2 separate regions of the Homo sapiens genome follow, and region 1 is linked to region 2. The links come from fine-mapping of genetic effects on gene expression. A gene starts in region 2. The other region holds a variant in brackets. All regions are shown on one strand. Distances are between the middles of the regions. Region 1 overlaps CFAP74 (cilia and flagella associated protein 74). Region 2 holds the start of CFAP74 (cilia and flagella associated protein 74).

Evidence for each region. PIP is the estimated chance that this variant, and not a neighbour inherited with it, causes the effect. A credible set is the group of variants that fine-mapping cannot tell apart.
Region 1: its variant is the best candidate, but not a certain one, in a credible set for the expression of CFAP74 in prefrontal cortex (BrainSeq, PIP 0.84).

Annotation. Positions count from the first base shown.
Region 1 is chr1:1,919,465-1,928,953 of GRCh38, reverse strand. CFAP74 (cilia and flagella associated protein 74) reads left to right here. Exons shown (of 39, transcript NM_001304360.2): 27 at 72-170; 28 at 1,208-1,347; 29 at 1,926-2,060; 30 at 2,193-2,302; 31 at 2,442-2,497; 32 at 2,607-2,726; 33 at 3,016-3,171; 34 at 4,434-4,563; 35 at 5,025-5,179; 36 at 5,455-5,587; 37 at 5,809-5,969; 38 at 6,231-6,365; 39 at 6,566-6,997. The coding sequence ends at 6,667. Among named protein-coding and RNA genes, the nearest start is that of TMEM52, 4.9 kb to the right of the region's middle. RefSeq lists enhancers at 5,112-5,612, 8,311-8,903, 8,904-9,489 and silencers at 6,513-6,697, 9,439-9,489. The variant G/A (reference allele first, on the strand shown) is at 4,295.
Region 2 is chr1:1,999,753-2,009,241 of GRCh38, reverse strand. CFAP74 (cilia and flagella associated protein 74) reads left to right here and starts at 5,456. Exons shown (of 39, transcript NM_001304360.2): 1 at 5,456-5,541. RefSeq lists a silencer at 5,298-5,592.

The DNA.
Region 1 (9,489 bases), 80 kb after region 2:
GAGTGCCCGCAGGGGCTCCGGGGAGGTGGAGGGAAGTGGCAACCCCTGTGCCCACGCTGGTCTCTCCTCAGAGGTGCCTGGTCCAGGTGGCCTTCCGGCCAGTGCTGCCCGAGAAGCTGATCCGCCAGGAAGCCCTCCCACTCCTGAACAAAGAAATGGAGACCAAATCTGTGCGTGGGGCCCGGGAAGGAGGGGCGTAGGTCGGGGAAGGGCCTGTTGCAGGAACAAACTCCACCGCCTTCGAGTCCTGGGGGGCTCCGGCCACGTGCCGGGAGCACAGGGTAGACCTTTCCCAAGCAATGCACGTGTCGAGCTGTATCTGAGGTTAAAAAGCTTGCTCACCAAGACCCTCCCTTCTCTCTGGAAGGCACTGCCAGGCGGGAGCAGGGAAGGGTGGGCTCTGGAGGTGGGGGCAGTAGGGGCTGTGACCCAGGGGTGCAGCGGATGCAATGAAGGGCCCCTCCAACAACCTGGAGGCCCCGGGAGGCGCACCTGAAACACGGAGTGTCCTGCAGAATCTGCCCCACAAGTGCCGGCCCTGGAGGTGGCCTCGAGGCTCCTGCCACACTCCAGATGCACCCTTCCCAGCCTGGCTTCCTCCCACGGGTTTGCCCTTCCCGGCCTGGCTTCCTCCCAAGGGTTTGCCCTTCCCGGCCTGGCTTCCTCCCAAGGGTTTGCCCTTCCCGGCCTGGCTTCCTCCCAAGGGTTTGCCCTTCCCGGCCTGGCTTCCTCCCAAGGGTTTGCCCTTCCCGGCCTGGCTTCCTCCCAAGGGTTTGCCCTTCCCGGCCTGGCTTCCTCCCAAGGGTTTGCCCTTCCCGGCCTGGCTTCCTCCCAAGGGTTTGCCTTTCCCGGCCTGGGTTCCTCCTGGGCGTGCACTCGAGGGGAAGCACTTGCCTTCGGCCTTCCGCGGTGAAGATAGGGGAAGGCACCAGGGTGGGGACCCCGGTTCTGGCCGCCTCCTCACTCCGTGCCTCGGTTTATCCTCTGGTGAAGCAGACGCCACAGTCTGTGAGCAGCTCTGTGGGGGTCTGTGTGCCCCTCCGCACTGGCTACTGTCTTCCTCGGGCGCCGGTCGGCTTTTGCGTCCCCACATTCAATCCCAACTGCGGCTCCCGCGGTTCCCGCACTGGCCGCAGAGGAGCCACGGGGCACAGCTGGCTGTGTTTAGGGCCCTGCACAGCCCCACAGCCAGTCGCTCCCCCCACAGTTCCGAAAGAATATGGCCCCCCAGAGGAAGGACCTGCATGGACTGTCATTCTCCGTTCTTCGAGCACAGAACCGCGACAAGCTGTTCAAAGTCTCTGTCCCCCACGTCCTGGAGATGCGGAAGCGGGAGCTGAGGCCCAGGTGGGTCCAGGAGGGGCTGCCCCACCTGCTTCCCTCCAGGCCCCTCTGGTGGGACCCACTGTGGCCCCTGTAGAGTCCCCTCCCTACAGATTGCCCGGAATGACCCATGTGGCTGGAAGGACTGATGCCTTCAGACACAGCTGGATCCAGGTGCTGCCTTCCTGGGACCTACCCACCCCATTTCCCCAGGCCTGACACCCCTGCACACAGCCTCAATCCACGGGTGGGGAGCAAAGCCACCACCCCCCACCCAGCCCCCCGGGTGCAGAATGAGCCCTGGGAAAGCTCTAATGGGTGCCTGTGGCCCCGGGAAGGAACATGGCTCTCTAGCCAGGGGCCAAAGGCACCTGCCCCAACCCCTAGCCTCCAGCCACCAGCTGACGAGGACCTGAAGTGAGTGATGAGACCCCCACAGGAGCCAGAGAAGGGTGGAAAAGCCAGTTTGTCAGACACAACTGGGACAGCCACAGCTTGGGACCCTGGGACCCTGGGACCCTGAGGCAGAGCCGCAGGGGTCCGGCCTGGGCCGATGGTGGGTGGGGGCAAGGCGGGAGCGCAAGCCTCTGACTTCCTTCTAGTTCCGACGAGTACCAGGCCGCCCGAGCCACCCTGCTCAGAGCGTTCCAGGCGAAGTTTGACACATTTGTAGTTCCCTGTGTTGTTGCCAGTGGCGACATCAAAGACAGGAAGGGGTCAGAACCCCTGAGCTTCAGGTGCGGGGTGCTCTGGCCAGAACAGGGTGTGGTCAGCCGCAAACGCGCTGTCCCTCTGCTACTGCCCAACTCTGGGGCCTGGGCGGGCAGGGGGCCGCCCACCCTGCCCTCAGCATGCCCTTCCTATCCCAGCCCCCACAACACCCTGTACCTGGAGCTGTGGTGCCCGACGGTGGCACCATCTGTTGTGGTGACGTCCCATAAAGGCAAGACCATCTTTAACTTCGGCGACGTCGCTGTGGGTGAGACGCTAAGCCCCGCCCACACCTCCACCCCGGTGCCCAGGCACACCCACGCCTCCCCCAGCCCCACGGCCCACCCCTGGCAGAGACGCTCCCTGGGGCCTGGGGCTGGGGCCTGACGCTCCCTGCCCCATTTCAGGGCACCGCAGTATCAAGAAGATCTCCATCCAGAACGTCTCTCCCGAGGATCTGGCCGTGTCCTTGTCCACCCAGCTCAGGCGGCCTGCGGGGTGGGAGCGGGGACCGGGGAGGGCGTGGTAGAGCCTGCAGACACCTGTATCCCCTCCTTGACGTGGACCCTCAGCTGGACTTCTCCCTGCTGAACCCCAACGGCCCCTTTGTCCTGCTGAACCACTCCAGCCTGCTGCGTGCAGGTGGGACCCAGGTCCTGGTGCTTTCCTTCTCTCCCCACGAGAGCATCCTGGTGAGTCCCAGGCCCACCCTGGCCACACTGCGGCCCAAGGCTCCCCACACTGCAGAACAAAGGCACTGGCCGGGGCGGGCATCACCTGTGCTCAGGCCTGGGACTAAGCCTGGGTCTGCGAGCAGCCTGGCCCCCAGGCCCTCACACCAGCCGCCAAGTGAGCGGAGCTGACAGAGCCCCCCCAGAGCTGTCTCAACTCCAGCGTTGAGAACCCACTGCCCCTGAGGCAGAGCTCCCCTCGTGGCTCCAGCAGACATCGGTTCCTGGCTGAGCGATGTGGTCTCTTTAGGCTCAAGAAACACTGGACATCATCACCAAGAGAGGCACGCTCACCCTCACCCTCATGGGCACTGGCGTGGCGTCCATGATCACGTGCTCCATTGAAGGCAGCGTCCTCAACATGGGCTATGTGATTGCCGGAGAGTCTGTGTCCTCAGGCTTCAAGGTGAAGCACACGTGGGCCCTGGTGCTGGCTCCAGCCTCCCAGGAGGGGTTTCCACCAGGCAGGACTCAGGCCAGCTGTCAAAAGTGACCCGTGGGTCGGAGAGCCCGTGGGGACACAGGTGGCCCCCTCTACCCCTCCTCTACACAGCTGCCGCCTCTGCCGCCCTCTCCTGCAGGGAACCCGGGGCCTGTTTCTGGGGAGGCTGCAGATGTCCCCTAGTCCTCCCCACCTCCCTGTCCTCCTTGGCGCTCTTTGTCCCTCCTCCTCAGCCCCTGCACAGAGCTCCCCCACCCACCACCCACCCCCTGCCCTGCTGCTTGAACTCACTCCTTTGGAGCTCAGCTCAGCCACCGGGGGCAAGGGTTTGCAGCCCTCTGCAGTGAGCCGCACTGCCCTGCGTGCTCTCATGCCTCGCACTGCCCTGTGTGCTCTCATGCCTTCACACCAGCGTGTGCCCTCATGCCTTCACACCAGCGTGTGCCCTCATGCCTTTGCACCAGCGTGTGCCCTCGTGCCTTCGCGCTGCCCTGTGTGCCCTCATGCCTTCACACCAGCGTGTGCCCTCATGCCTTCACGCTGCCCCATGTGCCCTCATGCCTTCGCCCTGCCCTGCGTGCCCTCATGCCTTCGCCCTGCCCTGCGTGCCCTCATGCCTTCGCACCAGCGTGTGCCCTCATGCCTTCGCACCAGTGTGTGCCCTCATGCCTCCGCACCAGTGTGTGCCCTCATGCCTTTGGACCAGTGTGTGCCCTCATGCCTTCACACCAGCGTGTGCCCTCATGCCTTCGCACCAGCGTGTGCCCTCATGCCTTCGCACGAGTGTGGGTCCGGGAGGGACACCTGCTTCTCCGCCTGGCTCAGGGCGGGTCCTGGAGGCAGAGCCCGAGACGGGCGTTGCATGGAGAAAGGGTGCTCTAAGGAGAGGGGGTGAGGGCAGGGAGGACACAGGTGGGGACGTGGGTTCAGCTAAGCTGGGCCTGAGCGAGACTCAGGCGCCCTGGAGGACAGGTGACACCCCAGAGCTGTCCACGCACCCTAGGCAGGGAAGCCGAGCCCCGGCCTAGCAAAGGCTGATGAGAGGCTGGAAGAAGGGATGTTGGCACACAGCTCAATAAACCGCCAC[G/A]TGTGCTGGCGTCATCAGGCCACCCGGGTCCCCACTTGGGTGTGGCCTCATAGCACCAGCCAAGTCCTGGGCACCGACGACAGGAAGGGGGCAGCCAGGCAGGGGCTGGCGGGCAGTGACCGCGGCCTGCTCTCTGCAGCTGCAGAACAACTCTCTGCTCCCCATCAAGTTCTCCATGCACCTGGACAGCCTCTCCAGCACCCGGGGCCGGGGCCAGCAGCAGCTGCCGCAGTTCCTCAGCTCGCCCTCCCAGAGGACGGAGGTGGTCGGTGAGCGGGGGGTGGGGGGTGGGTGGTGAGCTGCGGGGGTGGGCGGTGAGCTGGGGGAGTAGGCAGTGGCCTGGAGGGGGACAGTTGGTGAGATAGGGGGCTGGGCAATGAGATGGGCTGCGGGCGGTGAACTGGCAGGGGCGGGTGGTGAGCTGGAGGGGGGTGGTCGGTGAGCTGGCGGGCACGGGCGGTGAGCTGGGTGGGGGGCAGTTGGTGAGGTGGGGGGTGGGCGGTGAGCTGGGGGGGTGGGCAGTGAGCTGGAGGGGGCGGTTGGTGAGATGGGGGGGGTGGGCGCTTGGATCCATGGGAGGAGTGGGGGGCGCAAGGCCATTGGGGGGACCGGGCAGGACAGGGGCTCTGCAGGGGGGCGGGCAGGGTGTAGAGCTCTATGCAGCAAGGCTTGGAGGGCAGACAGTGATTGCAGGTGGAGAAGGCCAAACTGCACCCCACCCTACCCGCAGGGACGCAGAATCTCAACGGTCAGAGCGTGTTCAGCGTGGCCCCCGTCAAGGGCGTCATGGACCCCGGGAAGACACAAGACTTCACTGTCACCTTCAGCCCCGACCACGAAAGCCTCTACTTCTCCGACAAGCTCCAGGTGGTGCTCTTTGAAAAGGTGCGGCTCTGGCTCTGCAAGCTCAGCCCGGCCCGGCCCTGGCCCCACGCAGGGCCTTGCCTTTGGCTGCACTGCTCCACTTTGGAGGCCCTGAGGGTACCATGGCTGGGGGACTCAGCACCACACTGAGGGCCGTCAGTGGAAAGACCAGAGTCCAGGGCCCCACGGGGCCCCCAGGCCGTCCCTGCTTCCTTCCCTGAGCCAGCCCAGCTCTCACCAGCAGGACCCCTGCCGCCGAGCTTCGGGGACAAGGCCACTCCACTTCTTGTCCCCAGAAAATCTCCCACCAGATCCTGCTGAAGGGTGCCGCCTGTCAGCACATGATGTTCGTGGAGGGCGGCGACCCCCTGGACGTGCCCGTGGAGTCTCTGACAGCGATCCCTGTATTTGACCCCAGGCACAGAGAGGGTGAGCCCCTCCCCAGGGAGGGAACAGACACGGGGCCTCCCGGTGCCCCTGTCCCGTGGATGGGGGCCCCGAGACCCAGCGGAGCAGGGCAGGGATTCCCAGCCTTCTACCCCAGAGCCAAGCAGGACAGCCACTGCTAACCAGAGTTCAGGAGTCCAGCTGCAGCCTCACCCCATGCCTCAGCCTGACCCTGAACAGCTCCCCTGGCCACACCCCTCCAGCCAGCTCCCGGCCAGGCCCTCTCTCTCCAGAAGCTGAGGAGCTGAGGCCCATCCTGGTGACCCTGGACTACATCCAGTTTGACACAGACACGCCAGCCCCACCTGCCACCCGAGAGCTGCAGGTGGGCTGTATCCGGACCACCCAGCCATCTCCAAAGAAGGTGCCCACAGCACTGCCCCTGGGGACACCAGGCAGCCCCCTCGGCCTCCCCTGCCCTGGGCAGCCCTGACCCTCCTGGCCTTGCCCCTCACTGGGCTTGTCCTGACAGCCGGGCTTTTCTCGGACTTCCTGTGGCAGCTGTGGGGTGGGCAGCCTGGTCAGAGCTGGGAGGGTGAGTGGAGCTGGGCACCCTCACCCCTAGTCCCACTGCTTCTGGGAGCGGTGCCTGGTCGCCAGCCTACAGGAGCCCCATACCCCACAGACCGTTGAGTTCAGCATAGACAGCGTCGCATCCCTGCAGCACAAGGGTTTCTCTATTGAGCCCTCCAGGGGCTCCGTGGAGCGCGGCCAGACGAAGACCATCAGCATCTCCTGGGTGCCACCTGCGGACTTTGATGTAGGTGCCTTTGGGCTCCAGGCCAGGGAGCCCTGGGAACGCCAAAGGCTGGGTGGGCTGACACCCCTGCCCAGTCCCAGGGGAGGAGGTGGCCGTGGAGGACCCAAGGGAGTCAGGTGGGCAGGGCAGTGGGAAGACAGCAGATCTCCTCTGGGTGCCCACTGACTGAAGGCCTCTTCTCCCCTCCCCTCCTGTTCCAGCCAGACCACCCACTCATGGTGTCGGCCCTGCTGCAGCTAAGGGGGGATGTGAAGGAGACCTACAAGGTCATCTTTGTAGCCCAGGTGTTGACTGGCCCCTAAGCCTCTGCACAGAGCACCCTCGGGCCCTCCTGTCCACCCTCAAAGCCCTCCCCAGGCTGAGGGCCAGGTCATACTACCCTAGAGCCTGGGACCTGGCCATCCTCTGCCAGATTCCAATAGGCCGCCCTCCACATGGCGCCACGGCCACTTCCTGCTGCCCTGGACCCCGCAAGCCCAGGGACATCCAAGAGCACCCCTCCTGAGACCCCAGACTCAGAAGCAGCGAGAAGGCCAGGCCAGCCCTCAGCCATCCTAGCCAGACCCCCTCAGAGCCCCCAGCCCCCAGGAGAGCCCTCCACAGCCTGTCAATAAATTTTTTGTAGGCCAACACATGCAGCCTGCAGTGTGGGTGACAGCAGGTTATTCCCTGGGGTGAGCACAGAATGGGAGGTGGGGACAGAGCCCTGGGGAAGCAGCCCCTCCCCTCACAGCCATGACACCCGCTTTGCCTGGCAAGGGCCTCCTAGAGTGGGGCCATCCTGCAGGACACCTGTGGGGAGGCCACCCTGACCCAAATTCAAGGAGAGCCCCCAAGCCTGGCACCCTGAGCAGCAGCAGGCAGCCCAGAGGGCCGGGGTACAGCTAGAGCTGAGGCTGACCCAGAACCGAGGGGCCTGGGTGGTGGGGAGGGCAGGGCTGCAAAGCCCAGGGCAGGCCCCGGGAACCTCCAGACTTTTCCCAAGTTCCAGGACCCCGGATGACCCCAAGCAAAGGTGAGCAGACGGTGGGGACCCCCCAGCCTACTCATGCCCTCCCCTCCACCCAGCAGGGGCCAGGTGAGGCCCAGCTCCTGCACTGAAGTCTCTATTTGTCTGAGATAAGTCTGGGCTCGGCTTTCTGGGCTCTGACCCACCCTTCAACAGAGAAGACCCCTCGCAGCCCGTGAGATGCTCCTGAAGCTCAGAGTGGTGCCTGCACCCCAACCCTGCCCTCTGGAGTCTGGCTTGTTGGACGCTGTCCCCACAGAGCCCACCCAGCCTGGCCCTCCTGTCAGTGCAGCACACCCACTGTGCCACCCCAACCAGCAGCCACCAGCAGACTGTACGCAGCCTTCCCTGGCCGGGTCGGGGGAGCAGATGGTGCTTCTGGGAGCTTTCCTGGGCACAGGCCTCAGGGACGCCGGTCTTGAGCTGCCTGCCCTCACCCCCAGCCCCCCAGGGCCCACAGTGCCTAGGAACTTGCCATTGCCCCAAACTTCAAGCCAGTGACATTGACCCCGCAGTGGCGTTTTGCAGGATTTCTGTCCAATGGGTCCCTTGCTGCCCTTCCTGCGGCCGACCCACCATGGCTCAAGCTTGCGCCACACCAGATGGGAGGGGAAGGCAGGTTCCGCCAGGTCCAGGCCAGGCCCCGGCCGCAGGAGGAGGTGCTACTGGATGGCAATGTTTCCTGAATAGGCCCCTCTCTTCTAAACCCTGACCCGACTCTCCTGCTGGCAGGCCTCTGGTACTGAGTGGCGAGGCCCGCCCAGCTCCTGCGTGGGGGCCGTGCCCACACCTTCCGGAACTCGGGGCTGTGGCCTCAGGCTGTGCTGTGCACATGCACTCCCATTCCCACTCCCGTGCTGGGCCTCCACGACCAGTGCAGTCAATGTGGCAGGAAGAAGGGCCAGGGGCTGGGGGAGCTGGGCAGGCAGGAAGGGCCCTTGAGGACCGTGGCACAGGCCTTGGGAGGTGAAAGGCAACTTCAGGCAGAGCCCAACAGTGGAAGGAGTGATGCAGTGAAGGGGCAGGTATGGGCAGAAGAGCCACGCAGAGGAGGCCCTGCCCTCCAGGGTCACTGCCCTTGTGGTAGGGGTGGGGGACACTGAGCAGCGCCCACATGTGGAACAGTTCTGAGCAAGGGGTGCATGCCCCTCCTGCAGTAAGATGGACCCTGCCCCTTGCTGTGCTGACCACCTCCCTTAGCCTGACCACCAGAGAGACGGTGTGCTGTTGGTCCCACGGGGAGCAGAGGGCACCAAGAGCCTAACAGGGCCCCTGGCCTGGTGGCAGAGGGATAAGGGTCTGGGGTCCCCCTGGAAGAAATGGCCCCAGGCCTGCCCCTGCACAGGGAGCAGCAGACATTGCAGGCTGAGGGAAGGGCACTGGGCTCCCTGTGGCCCTCGGGAATGGAGGTCACATTCCCCAGGTGGGGCATGGCCCCCAAGGCCAAGTGCTTTGGGAAAGTGGTCTGCACCCAGCGCCTCAACAGCCCAGAGCCAGGGCCAGGCTCCAGCCCCCTGGGCCAGCCCCCAGACAGCGCCTGCAGCGCAGGTCCACAATCAAGTGTCCAAACACCAAGTTCGGGATGCCCAGCATCTTGGTGGCGTTACCCTACAGTCCACCTGGAGCCCGCCTGCGAGACTGGACCCGAGGGACCACACCCAAGGCAGCCACGACTTTCCAGGCCAGCTCCCGAGGGTCCCCGGGCCACGCCCAGACCAGCAGCAGAGCAGGCCACGCTCGGCCGAGGTTAAGGCGCCGTGCCCGGGCTGAGGACGAGACCCACCGTCGCCTCACGAGTCTGGGCCAGGTGGAGCTGCGGGGTAGGGCTTGTGGCGGACAAGCCCTCTGAACACGTTGGGCGTGGCCCAGTGGGAGGGGATTGCGCTGAGCGGGGTATGGTGGGCGAGGCTTACGTTGGGCATGGGGCCAGTGGGCGGGGTTTGCATTGAGTGGAGGCCCAGCGAATGGGGGCGTCTCGTGGGCGAGGGCTCCTGTGGGCGGGGCCTGCGGCGAACAAGGCTTGCACTGGGCGGGGCCCAGTGGGCGGGGTTTATGCTGCGTGAGGCGTCCTGTGGGCGAGGCCTGCGACGAACGCGGTTTGCTCTGGGCGGTGCC
Region 2 (9,489 bases):
CAGTGGCATGATCACAGCTCACTGCAGCCTTGACCTCCGGAGCTCAAGCGACCCTCCTGCCTCAGCCTCAGGAGTAGCTGAGACTACAGGCACATGCCACCACACCCAGTTTTTTTTTGTTTTTGAGACGGAGTCTCGCTCTGTCACCAGGCTGGAGTGCAGCGGTGCGATCTCAGCTCACTGCAAGCTCCTCCTCCCGAGTTCAAGCGATTCTCCTGCCTCAGCTTCCTATGTAGCTGGGAATACAGGTACGCACCACCACACCCAGCTAATTTTCGTGTTTTTAGTAGAGACGGTTTCACCATGTTGTCCAGGATGGTCTCGATCTCTTGACCTCATGATCTGCCTGCCTCGGCCTCTCAAAGTGCTGGGATTACAGGCGTGAGCCACCGTGCCCAGCATTTTTTTTTTTTCTTTGAGACAAAGTCTCACTCTGTCACCCAGGCTGGAGTGTAATGGCACAATCTCAGCTCACTGCAACCTCCACCTCCCGGGTTCAAGTGATTCTCCTGCCTCAGCCTCCTGGGTCCCTGGGACTACAGGCACCTGTCACCATGCCTGGCTAATTTTTGTATTTTTAGTAGAGATGGGGTTTCACCATGTCAGCCAGGCTGGTCTGGAACTCCCAACCTTGTCATCTGCCCGCCCCAACCTCCCAAAGTGCTGGGATTACCGGCGTGAGCCACTTCACCCGGCTCCAGATAATTTTTTTAAATTATTTTTTATAGAGCCGGGGTCTCACTATGTCGCCCAGGCTGAATGAACTCGTGGACACTAATATATTTGAAGTGCTTCAATCCACTGCAATTTACTTTTCCTTTTGATACTCAGTTGATGCTTACTTTCGCCAGTGAGAGCCCCTTCAAACTGGCAAATGGATCCTCCGAGACAAACTAGAATCTGTGTTAATTTTCCTGCTTGCTGTTATGATGAGATGTTCTGGGGTCATCTTGTATGTTTTCTGCCTCATGTCTGAAATCCGTCATTTTTCCAAGAAGCCATGGTTTCTTTTCAAGGGAAATGGCAGGAAGAAACAATGGTCTGTGTGCTCCTCGCACCGGGACTGGTGACCGTTTGTAGTCCAGCACAATCCCAGGAATGAGGGTCCTTGTTTCATGTCTGTGCTGTCCACTGGGGTAGCCACCGGCCACAGAGGACTACTCAGCACCTGCAATGTGGCTACTGCCACTGAGGAATGCAATTTTACATTTTATTTGATTTAATTTTTTTTTTGGACAGAGTTTTTGCACTGTTGCCCAGGCTAGAGTACAGTGGTACAATCTAGGCTCACTGCAACCTCCGCCTCCCGGGTTCAAGTGATTTTCCTGCCTCAGCCTCCCGAGTAGCTGGGATTACAGGTGCCCACCACCACGCCCAGCTAATTTTTGTATTTTTAGTAGAGACGGGGTTTTACCATGTTGGTCAGGTTGGTCTCGATCTCCTGACCTCAAGTGATCCATCCACCTTGGCCCTGCAAAGTGCTGGGATTACAGGTGTGAGCCACTGCGCATGGCCTGATTAAAACTTTTTAATGTGGTAAAATATACACAAAACTTAACCACCTTCCCTGTATTACTTATTTGTTTTTTCTTTTTCTTTTTTTTTTTTTTTTGAGATGGAGTCTTGTTCTGTCGCCCAGGCTGAAGTGCAGTTGCACATCTCAGCTCACTGCAACTCAAGGATTTCTTGAGGCCAGGAGTTCTACACCAGCCTGGAAAAGATAGTGAGACCTCATCTCTGCAAAAATAAAAATAAAAATGACCAGCTACACGGGAGGCTGAGGCAGGAGAATGGCATGAACCTGGGAGGTGGAGCTTGCAGTAAGCTGACATTGCGCCACTGCACTCCAGCCTGGGCGACAGAGCGAGACTCTGTCTCAAAAAATAATAATAATAAAATAAAATAGAAATGAATTAGCTGGGCATGGTGGTATACACATGTAGTCCCCGCTGCTTGGGAGGCTGAGGTGGGAGGCTCTCTTGAGCGCAGGAGGTGGAGGCTGCGGGGAGCCATGATGGAGTCGCCGCACTCCAGTCTGGGGAACAGAGCCAGACATTGTCTCTTTGAAAAAGTTACTTTCTGAGGCCAAGGCGGGCAGATCACTTGAGCTCAGGAGTTCGAGACCAGCCTGGCCAACATGGTGAAACCCCATCTCTACTAAAAATACAAAAAACTAGCCAGGCATTGAGGCTCATGCCTGTAATCTCAGCTACTTGGGAGGCTGAGGCAGGAGAATTGCTTGGATCCAGGAGGTGGAAGTTGCAGTGAGCCAAGATCACTCCATTGCACTCCAGCCTGGGTGACACAGCGAGACTCTGTCTAAAAATAAAAATAAAAAGTCACTCAAAATTATCCTTTTTTGTATGGCTAACCCCCCCACATGCCATACAATTAGGTTCATTTGTTTCATTCTGTCTCCAAGTTTTAGATGCTTTTCTATTTTGATTTATTTTTGGTTTTCTAATTACACAGTTCTATAACTGAATGTAAGCACATTTAAAGAGATCTACTTTCTATTCCTGTGTCCTTCTGCCCCAGATAGTAACCTTTTTAATGTAAAAATATATATATATTCTTATTGCCACTGCTCCTTCTTACATAAATACTATACACACTTTTCTGCATCTTGATTTTTTTTTTTTTTTGAGACAGGATCTCACTTGTCACCCAAGCTGGAGTGCAGTGACACAGTCACAGCTCAGGGCAGCATCAATCTCCCAGGCTCAAGAGGTCCTCCCACCTCAGCCTCCCGAGTAGCTGGGGCTACAGGTGTGCACCGCCATGGCCGGCTAATTTTTTTTGTATTTTTTTAGAGTCAGAGTTTCACCATGTTGCCCAGGCTGGTCTCAAACTCCTGGACTCAAGCGATCCTCCCACCTTGCCCCCCAAAGTGCTGGGATTAGAAGCGTGAGCCGCTGCACCTGGCTGGATTTTTTTTTTCTTTTTTGAGATGGGGTTCACTATGTTGCCAGGGCTGGAGTACAGTGGTACAATCATAGCTCACTGTAGCCTCAAACTCCTGGGCTTGAGCAATCCATCCTGCAGCTTCCCAAGTAGCTGGGACTACAGGCTCAAGCCACCATGCCTGGCTCAATTTTTTTTACTTAACAATATGTTCTGGAGTCACTCCACAGCAGAACATAGAAATAAATGGTCCTTATACCTTCTTTACAGCTGACCTCCATCGTGTAGCTGTTCCACAGCTTCCTTAACCAACCAGTTCCATGGACACGGGGCTGTTCTCAGGCTGTCACTGTCCTTTCCTTCTTTCCTAGACAGTATATATATATATATAGAGAGAGAGAGAGAGAGAACGAGAGAGAGAGAGAGAGAGAGAGTTGGAGTCTCGCTCTGTTGCCCAGGCTGGAGTGCAGTAGTGTGATCTTGGCTCACTGCAAACTCTGCTTCCTAGGTTCAAGTGATTCTCCTGTGTCAGCCTCTCGAGTAGCTGGGATTACAGGCATGCGCCACCACGCCCAGCTAGTTTTTGTATTTTAGTAGACAGGGGTTTCACCATGTTGGCCAGGCGGGTCTCGAACTCCTGACCTCAGGTGATCCACCTGCCTTGGCCTCCCAAAGTGCTGGGATTATAGGCGTGAGCCACTGTGCCCGGCCCTTTCCTAGAAAGTATATTAACAGTTCATTGGGAAAGGTCCAGGGAGGCAAAGTTGATAAGGAAGAAGCCCTATCATTTCCGTGGAGTCGGGAAGAAGTATAATCTCTCTTATAAAAGCGAACCTGGGCTGGTAATGGTGGCTTGGTTCTATTCCTCAGATTCTGAGGAGGAAAGCGATCTGGCACTGCGGAAGGTGGGTGAGTGCAGAGGTGCTGTGGTGTCACCCAGCTACTTTCCACAGCCATTCTCACGGGTGCTGGGCATTCTGCAAGGTGTCTTGCCTCTGATGGATCAGGTTATGGGCCAGGATAAAACCAAAGGACCTCCCAGGCCTCACTGTGGCATCAGGAGCCGGCCACCCTGCAAGCCCTACACATGGCGGGCTGAAAGACTGCCAGGGTAGGGGACGCGTCCAATTCACTCGTGAGCCCAGTTCTTGGCATAGAGTGGCCCGGTGAGAGACCACTCCCTTTCCTCACACTCCCATGTCTCCATTGCAAACGGCCCCCACGGACCAGCGGTGCGAGAAGAGGCTCCGGTGTAACAGGATGCACAGTGAGATGGGCTGGGCAGCGGGGGATGGGGACTGTGGGAAAGGCAATGGGGAACGTCGGAACCGGCTTGGCATGTTGGGCCCATCTTCCGTTTTGTTTTTTGTTTGTTTGTTTGTCTTGAGACAGAGTCTCGCTCTGTCGTTCAGGCTGGAGTGCAGTGGCGCAATCTTGGCTCGCTGCAACCTCCACCTCCCGGGTTCAAACGATTCTCCTGCCTCAGCCTCTGGGGTAGCTGGGACTGCAGGTGTGCGCCACCACACCCGGCTAATTTTTGTATTTTTAGTAGAGACAGGGTTTCACCATGTTGACCAGGATAGTCTCGAACTCCTGACCTCAAGTGATCTGCCCAACTCAGCCTCCCAAAGTGCTGGGATTACAGGCATGAGCCACTGTGCCCAACCGGGTTTTTGCTGTTTTTAATTTTGAAACAGGGTCTTGATTTCGCTCAGGCCAGAGTGTGATGGCACCATCATAGCTCACTGACTTTGCTATTTACTTTTACAATTTTTCAGTTGGAGCCTTTGCTGGAACATAACATTCAGAAGTCTTTTTTTTTTTTTTTTTTTTTTTGAGCCGGAGTCTCACTCTGTCATCCAGGCTGGAGTGCAGTGGTACGATCTTGGCTCACTGCAACCTCCTCCTCCTGGATTCAAGCGATTCTCCTGCCTCAGCCTCCTGAGTAGCTGGGATTACAGGCAGCTGCCACCATGCCCTGCTAATTTTTGTATATTTAGAAGAGACGGGGTTTCACCATGTTGGCGAAGCTGGTCTCGAACTCCTGACCTCAAGTGATCCGTCCACCTCGGCCTCCTAAATTGTTGGGATGACAGGTGTGAGCCACCGCGCCCAGCCCGATCTTCCATTTGCAAGAGAAGAGGAAAATCCCCATTTTCACGGGAAACCTCCTAGTTTTTTAGGTTGACAAACGACTCCAAACCATCATGCACCCGCCCCGGTCCTCTGGGCCAACGCGCCGGTGCTGAGCTCCTCCAGGCCCCCCAAGTCTGTCTGTCACCTCCAAGCCTTGGCCCTGGGCCAGGCCTGGCTGTCTGGGACCCCGGAGACGTCCCCGCCCCGCGGCCTGTGGCCTGGCCCTTCAGCCGCGCCTCGGGGCCCGCGACCTCCTTGCCCCGGCCCCGGCCCGCGCGGTCGGTGGTGGGTCGGACCAAACCACCCGCTCCAGCCGGGGAGCAGAACGGGCGAGGCTCCCCCTCCGGCCACGATGGAGTCTTCCGTTGCCATGGAGCTGCCCGCCCCAAACCACGCCGCCGGCGCCGCGGAGGGCAATCGCCAAGGACCGCCGCCTGCCTGAGCAGCCCGGGGTGTCTGTGCCTCCGGAGCCCGAGAACCTGGGACCCAGGCCAGCCAGAGGTGGGTGTGGGGGCGGATGCGTTTGACCCTGGGGCTGAGCTGGAAGGGTTTGACCCCCGCCCCCCAGGCAGAACTCCGTCCCATATGAAACGCCTTTCCCGGAAAGCTGTGCCAGAAAAATGACTTTGTTAATAGTTCTAGTCCCTGGTTCGTTTCAGGGAACCCCGGCGCTGGCACAGCCTCTGTTGAGGGACCCGCCCCTGACTTTGCAGCAGATGTTATAATAAAGTATTATTATAACACATTTACAAAAACATTAAACAAAAATCAAGGGCCAGCCTGTCTGGTGAACAGTTAAGACTCGTGAGTGTCTGCCTAGCTAAAAAGGAGAGCATGGTCCATAGCCCCAAAGTCATTTAGTTTTAGTATGTATAACCTAGTTTTGGAAGCTGATTTGCCTCTAGTATTTTGTTTTTCTTAAAGGAATACTCCTTTTATCTGCATAAGCCAGGTACTGAGGTAGTAAGCAGGCCTGCTGTAGGGCCCACAGTTGAAAAGAAATGGACTGATATTCTCTGCATAACGATGGTGCATAAATGCGCATGTGCGACTTAGAGATTGGTTATAAATCGAACATCAGTAGCCACTACCCAAGTTAAGAAATAGAACCTCATCAGCACCCCAAAGTCTCTCCCCCATGCCACTCACAGACCCGCTCTTCTTGACCATGGCTGACTTTTTCTTTAGTTTTACTACCTATGCATGCGTCCCTAAACAATATAGTTAACTTTCACTTATTTTAAACTTTATATAAACTTTATATTTATATAAAATTTTAAAGATGATATATAAATTTCTTTAGTTTTACTACCTATGCATGTGTCCCTAAACAATATAGTTAACTTTCACTTATTTTAAACTTTATATAAACTTTATATAAAATTTTAAAGAATATATGTGGTGTTATATAAACAATATATAATATAAATATATAGACTATATATAATGCCACATATAGTTTTATGTAAGTTTAATAATATATATTAAACTTCATATAATACTACATATATTCTTTAAATTTTTGTTTTTTTGAGACAGAGTCTCACTGTGTTGCCCAGGTTGGAATGCAGCAGGGCGATCTCGGCTCACTGCAACCTCCACCTCCTGGGTTCAAGCGATTCTCCTGCCTCAGCCTCCCAAGTAGCTGGGATTATAGCATGCCTGGCTAATTTTTGTATTTTTAGTATAGACGGGGTTTCCGCGTGTTGGCCAGGATGGTCTTGAACTCCTGATCTCAAATGATCCACCCACCTCCGCCTCCCAAAGTGCTGGAATTACAGGCGGTGAGCCACCACACCCAGCCAACTTTCATTTATTTTAAATTTTATATAAATTTATTTATATAAAATTTTAAAGAATATGTGTGGTATTATATAAGGTTTATATAAGTTTAATAATATATATAAACTTTATGTAATACCACATACATTCTTTAACATTTTTTGAAACAATCCCAAACTTGTATAAAAGTTGCAAGCTCAGCACAAAAAAACTTCTCGTGAAGGATTTGAGAGTAAGTTGCCTTCATGATGCTCTGTCGCCCCCCACCCTTGTAGAGTGTATTTTCCACAAACGAGGACATTCTCCAACACAGCCACACATGGCCCGAGTCAGGAGAGGACACAGGCCTGTTGCCGTGTTTACCCCTCAGCCTGTCAAACACGCTTTGCCAGTTGATTGCATCAGGGCCCCAGCGTGGAAGGATCCAGCCTAGAGTCACTTTGCACTGAATTCTCACATACCTCTTTATTCCCCTTCAGTCCAGAACATTCCTTGGCCTTGCTTTGGCTGTCATGACCCTGACACCTCTGAAGGTCATGGGCCAATTACTTTGGAGAAAGTCCCTCCATTTGGTTTCGTCTGCTGTGTCCTCGTGATTAGATTCCCACTGCACGTCTCGGACAGGAAAGTCGCAGAGGTGACACCGTGGCCTGTTCATTCCATCCAGTCAGTGGCTCACAGTGGTCACGTTGTCACGTTACTGATGATGTTCACTTTGAGCTCTTGATTAAGGTGGTATCTGCCAACATCTCCACTGGGAAGTTCTTTTTTCCTTCGTAATTAACAAGCATTTTGGCCGGGTGCAGTGGCTCACGCCTGTAATCCCAGCACTTTGGGAGGCTGAGGAGGGCGGATCACGAGGTCAGTAGATCGAGACCATCCTGGCTAACACGGTGAAACCGTCTCTACTAAAAATACAAAAATTAGCCAGGTGTGGTGGCGGTTGCCTGTAGTCCCAGCTACTCGGGAGGCTGAGGCAGGAGAATGGCGTGAACCCAGGAGGCGGAGTTTGCAGTGAGCCGACCCTGCGCCACTGCACTCCAGCCTGGGCGACAGAGCGAGACTCCGTCTCAAAAAAAAAAAAACAAAATGAAAAACAAAACAAAACAAAAACACAAGCATTTTGTAGGAGGTATTTGGAAGCTATGCAAATATGTCATCACTCCCAGGCTTGGCCTGGGAGGCTCTCATGGTGGACACCTTCTTCTCCTGCCTGGGCTCTGATACCCTCTGCTGGACCACACCTGGGGCCGCCCTCTTTCTTCTCAGGCTCTGACATCCAGCTCTGAGCCTCAGCCACGCACACCGGCACCCTCCTCACCCAGCCAGGCACCTGCAAACAGCTCTGAGCCTCAGCCACATACCCTCACCCTCCTCACCCAGCCAGGCTCCGACAGCCCAGCCTGGGCCACTGTGGATCCTGCTCCACCTGCCCTACCCAGGGAACCTACTGTGACAGTGAAGGGAAGGGGGAGAGGAAGAGCATCAGGCGGGCCTCTGTCTTTTTCTCCTCGGGGTTGTGCGAGAGATTCATCCACACAGTGGCACCGTGGCCATCGGGGCTGTCTCTAAGCCTCAGGACCTGAGAATATGACCTTATTTGGACTTACAGTGATGCCTGTAAGTAGCTAAGAGGAGGACATACTAGAATAGGGTGAGTGCCTCATCTGGTATGACCGGTGTCCTTATAAAAAGGAGAAATTTGGACATACAAATGCACACAGAGAGAATGTCCTATGAAGATTGGAATTTTGCTGCCACAAGCCACAGAACTAGCAGAAGCTAAAAGAGAGGCCTGAAACAGGCCCTTCCCTCGTGCCTTCAGAGGAAGCATGGCCCTGCCATCAACTCGGTTTTAGACGATGGCTTCCAGAACCGTGAGACAACTCTGTTGTTGAAGCCACCTAGGTTGTGGTACTTTGTTATGGCGACCCCGGGAAGCTAACACAACAGGTGGGATTTTCTGTAGGGTGTGCTCCTGGGAGAGGAATCGCAGAGCCAGAGGGTGCCATAGGCAGGATGATCTCCCCCTTCCCCAAAAAACCCATGTCCTGGTCCTCCGAACCCATGCGCGTGTTAGGGGACGTGGCACGTCCTTAACTGTGAAGTGCCTGTTGACGTCTTTTGCCCATTTTGCTGTGGGGCTGTCTGTCTTTATCCATTCATGGATATTCCTTACATGGTCTTGACAGTAAAATTCTGGGTTATGTGCTGTGATTGTCTTCTACTTTGTAGGTTTTCTTTTTTCTTTTTTTTGAGATGGAGTCTCGCTCTGTCGCCCAGGCTGGAGTGCAGTGGCACGATCTCAGCTCACTGCAACCTCCACCTCACCAGTTCAAGCAACTCTCCTGCTTCAACCTCCTGAGGAGCTGGGACTCCAGGCGCCTGCACCACACCTGGCTAATTTTTTGTATTTTTAGTAGAGACGGGGTTTCACCGTGTTAGCCAGGATGGTCTTGATCTCCTGACCTCATGATCCGCCCGCCTCAGCCTCCCAAAGTGCTGGGATTACAGGCGTGAGCCACCGCGCCCGGCCTGTAGGTTTTCTTTAACTTTCCCTAGGATGTCATCTGAACAAAAGATTTGGTTTTGTTTATTTGTTTGAGACAGAGTCTTGCTCTGTCGCCTAAGCTGTAGTGCAGTGGCACAATCTTGGCTCACTGCAAC